3 separate regions of the Homo sapiens genome follow, and all the other regions are linked to region 3. Evidence: fine-mapped expression QTL. A gene starts in region 3. Each other region holds a variant in brackets. All regions are shown on one strand. Distances are between the middles of the regions. Region 1 overlaps LOC100287290 (a long non-coding RNA gene). Region 2 overlaps LOC100287290 (a long non-coding RNA gene). Region 3 holds the start of MFSD1 (major facilitator superfamily domain containing 1).

Region 1 (2,808 bases), 57 kb after region 3:
ATAGGTCTGCAATTAAATCTACAATTTTTAAACTCTAATCACAGCATCTTAGAGCTGTCATGAATGTTATAGCAAGAAATAATCTATTTGCACAAATAGATCTTGTGGCCTGGCGTGCGGGCTCACGTGTGGAATCCCAGCACTTTGGGAGGCTAAGGCAGATGGATTGCTTGTGCCAGGAGTTCAAGATCAGCCTGGGCAACATGGCGAAACCCCATCTCTACTAAAAACACAAAAATTAGCCAGGCATGGTGGCACATGCCTGTAGTCCCAGCTACTCAGAAGGCTGATGGGGAGGATCACCTGAGCCCAGGAGGTGAAGGGTGCAGTGAGCCAAGATTGCACCACTGCACTCCAGTCTGGGTGACAGAGCAAGACCCTATAAAAGAAAACAAAAAAAAAATTATTGAGCTTTTTCATACCAAGTATAGGGACAGGGATAATATGTATCAAAATTTTTGCTAATTACTAATTGCTATTAACAATTACCATTGTTACAGCCCCAGTTCTAATGTTAACATGATATCTGTTATGGGCTCAATTGTGTCCCCCCAAAATTCATACATATATTGAAGCCCTAACCCCCAGCACCTCAGAATATTACAGCATTTGGAAACAGACTCTTTAATGAGGTAATTCGTTAAAGTAAGGTCATTGGAATGGGCTGTAGTCCAACATGACTGGTGTCCTTATAAGGAGACAAGGACACAGGCACACACAGAGGGAAGATCATGTGAAGACACACAGAGAAGGGGAAGCCAAGGGAAGAGGTCTCAGAAGAAACCAGCCCTGCCTACACCATGACACTGGACTTCTAGCCTCCAGAATTGGGAGAAAATAAATGCTGTCTGATCTGCCCAGTCTGTGGTATTCAGTTATGGCAGCTCAGCAAACTAATACAATATATGAAAGACTCTGCTCATGATGAGGTTAGGTCTCGCCCAGCAGTCACTGTTGTGGTAAGCATTTGTGCTGTTCCACATACTTCCAGCTCTCCACCTCCTGGAGAACATGATGATATTGTACTTTCCCACCCCCTGAAGAAGTTAAGCATCGCCTACGACATGCTTTTGTCAATAAAAGGTGAGCAGAAGTAATATGTATCACTCCTGAACAGAAACTCTAAGAACCTAAGCATAATTCACCCTGTTCTCTTTTTCCTCAGTTGTAGCAACAAGAAATGTTCCAGAAGCAGCTGCTCCACCAGCCTGCCCTGTGGAATAAGAACACTGACAATGCTATGGTAAAACCCCCAGCCAAACCATAACGGACTTGTGATGAGAGCAACAAATAAACCTTTTTTATCTTAGGTCCTGAGATGTAGGCATTGTTTGTTATTGCAGCATATCCTAGAC[T/C]ACCCTGACTGCCACATCAGTTTACTTACAATTCAAAATAGGAGTCATCTCATTTACCAAATTCCAGACATTCATTTGTTTCATTTAGCTCAGAGCAATAAGCATATCAATTAAACTCTGATCTTTGGTGGTTTGGATTTTTTTTTAACTTAAAATATCTGGTAATAAGGCCAGGCATGATATCTGCATGATAGTAAGAAGGCACAAGTCTTCTTTCAGAAGGTGGGAAGACGTTAGTGAGATGTGTCCAAAGAAAGGACAACTTAGCAAGGTTCTCTGCACCGGGTAGGCACAGGTAAAAGAGAATAAAACTACAGTGTTTCAAACCGGCAGTTCCCTCTGTTTGCCATGTAATTCATCCCACACCCAGCACTTTACACAGAAGAGACTGAGCCAGTTTGAGTTGTTGAGCTGGGACTAGACCCCATGCCTTCTGACTCTCAGACCAGAGCTCTTTGCCCTGTACCATCCTTCTTAGTTCTTTAAGAATCAAGATAGAATTTCATTTTAGCCAACAATAATATCTCCTTATCCTAAAGCCTCATCATAATTCTGATATTTACCAGTGAAGAGAAAAACATGTTTACAGTGGCATTTGTTTCAAAAAAATAATCCAACCCAACTCACCCTGTGCACAGTAGGCTCTTTTCAAGGCTAGGTGTGCAGGGACTTTAGAGAACCCTCTAAGAGCAAATGCCCATTGCTGGGCTTCAAGGTTTTCCACCTTTTTCCTTTACTGCTAAGTAGCCACTGGCATGATTCCAGCCAGGTTCACTGCTGTTCTGTTTGGTCTTCCCTACAATTCATTCACTCGGCCCACACCTTCTGCCCAGACCAGTCTGCCCCTTGCTGCTCTCACAACTTGCTGACTCTTCTGAACGCCCACAAATCCAGCTTTTCTGCTTCTGGACTTGAAGATCCACCCACCGCACATTACATTCCATGGAACTAGGGGCAGGGTGGCTGAACAGAAGCCTGCACCAATCATCCTCCCTGCAGGAGCACCAAATTTTAACAACTAACCACACACACAAATCAGCACTGTCATAAGAACACTCCAAGGAATCAACCAACCTCTGTCTGTATGTATTCACGTATTCTAAGTCATCTAGGTGATTGTGTTGTCTATTTATTAGCCAGGTGATTTATCAGTACTTCTGTTTGCTCTCACTATTATATATATGCCCTGGTGTGCACCCTGTAGAAATAATGGTGAAGAGGGGAAAATAGAATGAGGGCTTTCTAACACACTGTCCTGTTATCTAGGCTGCCACATGTGGGAAAACGCCTTCCCCTGAGGTATGAAGAGTTGGTTTTGGTTTGCCTTGATAACATACTCTATGCAAATTTCACTGATGAACACCAGTGTCATAAACAGAATTGCATAGATCAATCACTCCAGAAAGTTCATGGCATACAAATATTAACAAGTGTTATGAATTTTCTTTGAAAT
Region 2 (2,803 bases), 67 kb after region 3:
TGAGAGCTCCCCTTCAGGTCAGGCTGAACCTACCTGTCATATAACTGTCTGAGATCCTTGCATGGCTATCCTTCTTCTAGCTCCTTACTGAATTCTGCTCGGAGCATTTCTTTTAGGAACAATCTTTGTTTCTGGGCCTGCTTCTAGGAAACCCAACGTAAGACACAATCTTCTTCCTCAGTAACAAAATCCTGAGTTTTATTTTGGCATATGGCCACCGTGAATAAAAACTACATTTCCCAGCTTCCTTTGCAACCAAGTTCTTGCCAATAAGATACAGGGCACAAGTGCCCTGTGAGACTTCTAGGAAATCCATAAAGGGAGTCCTGCTGATGGCTAGTGTCCATCGTGGACCCTGAGGGCAAGGGGTACATCCTCAGGATGTGGGAGCAGAGATCTGGAAAAGGCCTGGACCTCTAACAACCTCATGGATCTGCCAATACCAACCGCAGATTGTCTACCATCCCACCATTACCCCACAACTTCTTTTGAGAAATAAGTTCCTCTCCTGTTTAAGCCAATGTCATTCGGGTGTTTATTCCATGCAGTTAAATTTAATCCTAGTTTACAGACCAGACCATTGACTCTGAAAAACGACAGACACTCAGTTTGCCAGCCTCCCTTGCAGCTAGGCTTTGCCAGTGTAACCCAGATCTGGCTGAGGAGGTATAAAGGAAGGTCTTGGGGGGAAGAAAGGTGTAGGCAGGAGGTTCTGGAAAAGATATTTCTTCCTGATGCAAAAAACAAACAGGTGCACAATGTCCAGCTCTCTTTCCACTCTGGCAACCTATTCCCTGCTACCTGCCTTTGGCTGCAGCATGTGAAGATGTGCTGTCTGGAGCTGTGGCAGCCATTCTATAACCAGGAAACTACAAGTGCATGGACAAAAAGCCAACCAGCTGAGGATGGCTGTGCAGAAGGATGGAGAGAGCCTGGGTCTTTCAGAAACTCACTGAGATCTCCCACTCCAAACCAATAAATGGTCCACACTGTTAATCGGGTTTTCCATTACATACAGTTGAAAGCAATCTAACATACTCACAGGGAACAAAGCACTGAAGTAAAATCACCTGGAAGTGATCAATTCTCAAAAAGCCTGCTACTATAACCTCTTGGAGGGTGCTATAGTTTGGGTGTTTTTGTCCCCTCCAAAATTCATGTTGAAACTCAATTCCCAGTGCAAGAATGTTGGGAGGTGGGGCCTAGAGTGAGGTGTTTAGGTCATAAGAGTGGGTACTCTCTCACTCTTCCAGCATGTGAGGACACAGCGTTCCTCCCCTTCATAGGATGAAGCA[C/T]GCAAAGCCCCATTTTGGAAGCAGAGACAGAGCTAAGACCCCACCAGACACCAAGCCTGTTGGTGCCTGGATCTTGGACTTCCAACCTCCAGAACTGTGAGAAACAGATATCTGTTCTTTATAAATTACCCAGTCTCAGGTATTCTATTATTGCAGCACAAAACAAACTATGGGGAGATGACTGGGTTCTGGGAGGTGATTACCTGTGCTAGGCTTGCCTCTGAGGGCAAGAAACAGCAACTCCAGCTTCAGGGAAGTGAAATAATAAGAAATAAACTCCAGGATCCGCTGATTCCTGTGTTCAACAATGCCATCAGGAACCCAGGGCCCTCCCCTCTCTCTGCTCTGCCACTCTTGAAATGGGCTTCATTCTCAGGCAGCCAGCAAGACAGAGGCATGCTTCTGGGCAGCACAGCCAGACCTAACTGGGGCCTATCGAGGGCCTGCACTCTCCCCCTTGGCTTCTCCCTCCAGCTGGATTTTCTTGCTTTTCTTCAAACATGCCAGATAGGCTCCTGCCCTAGCCTCTGCACTTGCGTTCCCTCTGCCTACAGTGCTTTTGCATACATGTCCACTTGGCTCTGCCTCCTTCAGGTCCTCACCCAAATATTACCTCCCGAGAGAGGCCTGCCCTGACCACACCTTTTAAGATTAACCACCTCCCAACTCCCCATTTCTTTTTCTGGCTTAATTTTTCTCCCTGGCATGTAACTTCATCCAATATAGCACACATTCCCTTGGCCTCACTGAGTGTCCGGGCCCCACTTGCCTAGAAGGTGTGCTCCAGGAAGGCAGAGATGTTTAAGATTGTTCACCCTCATTCCCCCAGGGCCTGGCACAGGTGTTTCACAATTATCTGCAGAAGGAAGGAAAGACAGACAAGGGACAGACAACAGCCAGAGGAAGAAGTGCAGTAAGACAGGATCTTTCCAGAGATGGCACCACGCCCATCAACCCACAGGCTTTGCTCACCATGCAGAACTGGCACATGCCCACTCTCAACCACCCACTGGCAAAAAGAGATTTCCTTTAGCCCCACAATGGCACTGGGGTCCACGTTTGGTGCAGGGGTAGACCCCTGAACAAAATGCAGGATGGAGAAATGGATGTTGGGAGTGCCTAGCAGTACCAGTTCTCCTCTCTCAGCCCTGGTTCTCCAGGACTTTTTCTCTTGCCTACGGTTTAAAAACAATGGCTATCTTAGCCCTTCACTGCCACCTGTCTAAAAAGAGTTGCCGCCGGGTACCGTGGCTCACGCCTGTAATCCCAGCACTTTGGGAGGCCCAGGCGGGCGGCTCACGAGGTCAGGAGTTTGAGACCAGCCTGACCAACATGGTGAAACCCCGTCTTTACTAAAAATACAAAAATTAGCCGGGCATGGTGGCTGTAGTCCCAGCTACTCGGGAGGCTGAGGTAGAATTGCTTGAACCTGGGAGGCGGAGGTTGCAGTGAGCCAAGATCGTGCCACTGCACTCCAGCCTGGGAGACAGAGCAAGACATGGTCTCAA
Region 3 (2,500 bases):
TGCTTTAAAGCTAATGGATGGGCATCATCTTTTAAAAAACAGGGGAGGGGGGAAAAAGGAGTTGCAAGGAAACCAAAGCCCAAAGCATCCTTCATGTCTACTTATATGTTCAGCGCTAGAATAGTTATCCACCATAATGTTCTTAAACCTGCTGATTACACGGGCTCCAGCTAGCCTCCTGAAAAACACATTCATACCAAATTAATATTAGAATTTTGCTTAATAAATTAAAAACTGTAACATAGGAAGGAAAATTTTTTTCTAATTATCAAGAAACTGTTTTCGGAGACATCAGATTTCATAAGAGAAACCAACCACTGTCAAGACTACCACAAGTCCCGTCCAATATGATTGCTTCACAGTGGCAGAGTGGAAGATTAAGAGAACAATATCTATTCACTGAAGCTATCAGCAAGACACACTCATACATTTTCTCAAAGAGGGTGAAAAATATATAGAAGACTGCCGACGAAATCATTCACGTTTTTTAAAAGCTGGACAACATTGTAAGACCCTGTGTCTAAAAATAATAATAATAATAAAGCCGGGTGTGGTGGCGCCCCATCTGTGGTCCCAGCTACTCGGGAGGCTGAGGCGGGAGGATTGCTTGAACCCAGGAGGTGGAGGCTGCAGTAAGCCACTTTCACAACACTGCACTCCGGGCTGGGTGACAGAGCAAGCCCCTGTCTCACCTAAAACCAAACAAACAAAAGTTGTTTAGGAACAGTTAAAGCTTTCTGAATTTCCTCCGACCACGTGTGCCAAAAGAGGAACCTTGAAAATCTGGAGTTACCTTCATATCTATCGCCTCTAGGGCGAGTCGCTAGCCCCTGGGACTTACTGAAGAGCAAAGGAGTGCCACAAAACTCGCCCAGCTCAGTCCCTCGACCTCCACGTTCCGGACGCGGAGTAACTAGCAACATCCACAGGTGTGGCTGGAATCGATCGCAAAGGGGAAAATAAGGAGGCCCAGGAGCTTAAGACAGAAGCTGCGCTGAGGCCCCGTGGCACCAGTGACCACGATGACGATCTACCTCGAAGAGAAAGTCGGGAATTCCTTAAAGATCAGCCCCAACCCACCCGGCCGGCTCACCAAAGCCAAGGAAGCACATCAGTAACAGCACCAAAAGCCGGTGCGCCAGGCGACTGGGGTCGCAGAGGGCCGGCAGGGCTCCAGGGGCGGCCGGGGCACCTCTGTCGGCCTCGTCAGGGCCGCCTGCCAGGAGCGCCCGCGCTTCCTCATCCTCCTCCTCCATTGCGCCCGCAGGAGACGGAGAGGGGAAAGTGGTGACAACTCCAAACCCAGGCAGGAAGCAGCGCCCGTGGAACACTGTCAAGACGGCGGTCACATGACTCCGGGAGCTCACGTGACGCCCCGGCAGGTCACGCAGGGCCACGCCCATGTGAGCGGCCGCGAGCGCTGGGAGGACGGACCCAGCGGTCGATGACAGGGCCTGGCGCGGTTCGCTTTTCCTGGGTGACTGTGTTCGTGGGGCTGAGGCCCTCGAGGTGCCCACTTCCAGCTTTCCACCAATTACTGCACTGTCTTTCCGTTTCCTGCCCCGCTGACGCGTACACCTATTTCAGACTCAGCGCAGCTCCGCGGGGAGAAAAGTGCGGGGCTCCCTCTCGGCTCCACACCAGACTCCGGAGTAGTTCGAACTGCGCTGGGGTCGCCAAGACGCGCGCTGCCCTTCTCCCAGCACTGCCCTCCCCAGCGTCTTTGACCACTCTTAATACCCACAAACTTGATCGGACAATTTCTGGTGTGTCCAGCCATGTGTCACGTACTGGGAATACAAAATAGAATGAGGCAAGCTCCCTGACCTCAAAGATTTCAGAGTTCAGTTGGAGAAATCGACAGAATCTGGTACTTTTAAAACTAAACATGATGAATGAATGTGGTGAGAACAGCGGCAGAAAATGGCACTGAATTCCATAGAAATATCTGGAAAGGTCATTTCAAAAGGGGAGAAAAGGTGCGTAGTTTAGCCAGCTTTCAGGGCAAGGGAGTGAGGGGCGCTGAAGCTCCTTGAAGTTGAAACCCAGGCTAGAATGAGTAAGAATGCGCCAGTCAGGGTGCTTGTTTGAGCGGGTTGGTTGCAGGGCGGGCAGTTACGAGGGATAATAAAGACAAAAGCGTGAAACAGAACTGGGTGTGTATGTGTTTGTGTTGAACGACAGAGAAGGAACTCGAGTAGAAACACTAAACCTGTTTCAAGAAGAGCCATGCAAGGATTTTGAGCACAGCAGCAGGACTGCAAGCTTTGTGTTTTAAAAAACATTCGGTCTGCCAGCACAGCACCATCGTCGCTTTCTGGGAGCCCTCAGGCTTTACTAACAGAATTTTGAGGGCGTCAAAGCTAGAGGCTGAAAACTGTGAGGATTATTAGGAAGATGCTGCAGTCGTAACGATTAGAGATGACGAGGGCCTGTTAGCAATAAAAAGCAGGAATGGCACAGAAGAAAATCAGTAATTATTTAGGAGGTAAAATGGGAA

What was found. PIP is the estimated chance that this variant, and not a neighbour inherited with it, causes the effect. A credible set is the group of variants that fine-mapping cannot tell apart.
Region 1: its variant is the best candidate, but not a certain one, in a credible set for the expression of MFSD1 in monocytes (Fairfax 2014, PIP 0.64).
Region 2: its variant is the best candidate, but not a certain one, in a credible set for the expression of MFSD1 in visceral fat (GTEx, PIP 0.63).

The regions. Positions count from the first base shown.
Region 1 is chr3:158,743,625-158,746,432 of GRCh38, reverse strand. The region is part of intron 4 of LOC100287290 (a long non-coding RNA gene); the gene reads right to left. Among named protein-coding and RNA genes, the nearest start is that of RARRES1, 13 kb to the right of the region's middle. The variant T/C (reference allele first, on the strand shown) is at 1,356.
Region 2 is chr3:158,733,299-158,736,101 of GRCh38, reverse strand. LOC100287290 (a long non-coding RNA gene) reads right to left here. Exons shown (of 5, transcript NR_171782.1): 2 at 2,065-2,151. Among named protein-coding and RNA genes, the nearest start is that of RARRES1, 2.2 kb to the right of the region's middle. The variant C/T (reference allele first, on the strand shown) is at 1,296.
Region 3 is chr3:158,800,909-158,803,408 of GRCh38, reverse strand. MFSD1 (major facilitator superfamily domain containing 1) reads right to left here and starts at 1,355. Exons shown (of 16, transcript NM_022736.4): 1 at 1,094-1,355. The coding sequence starts at 1,256.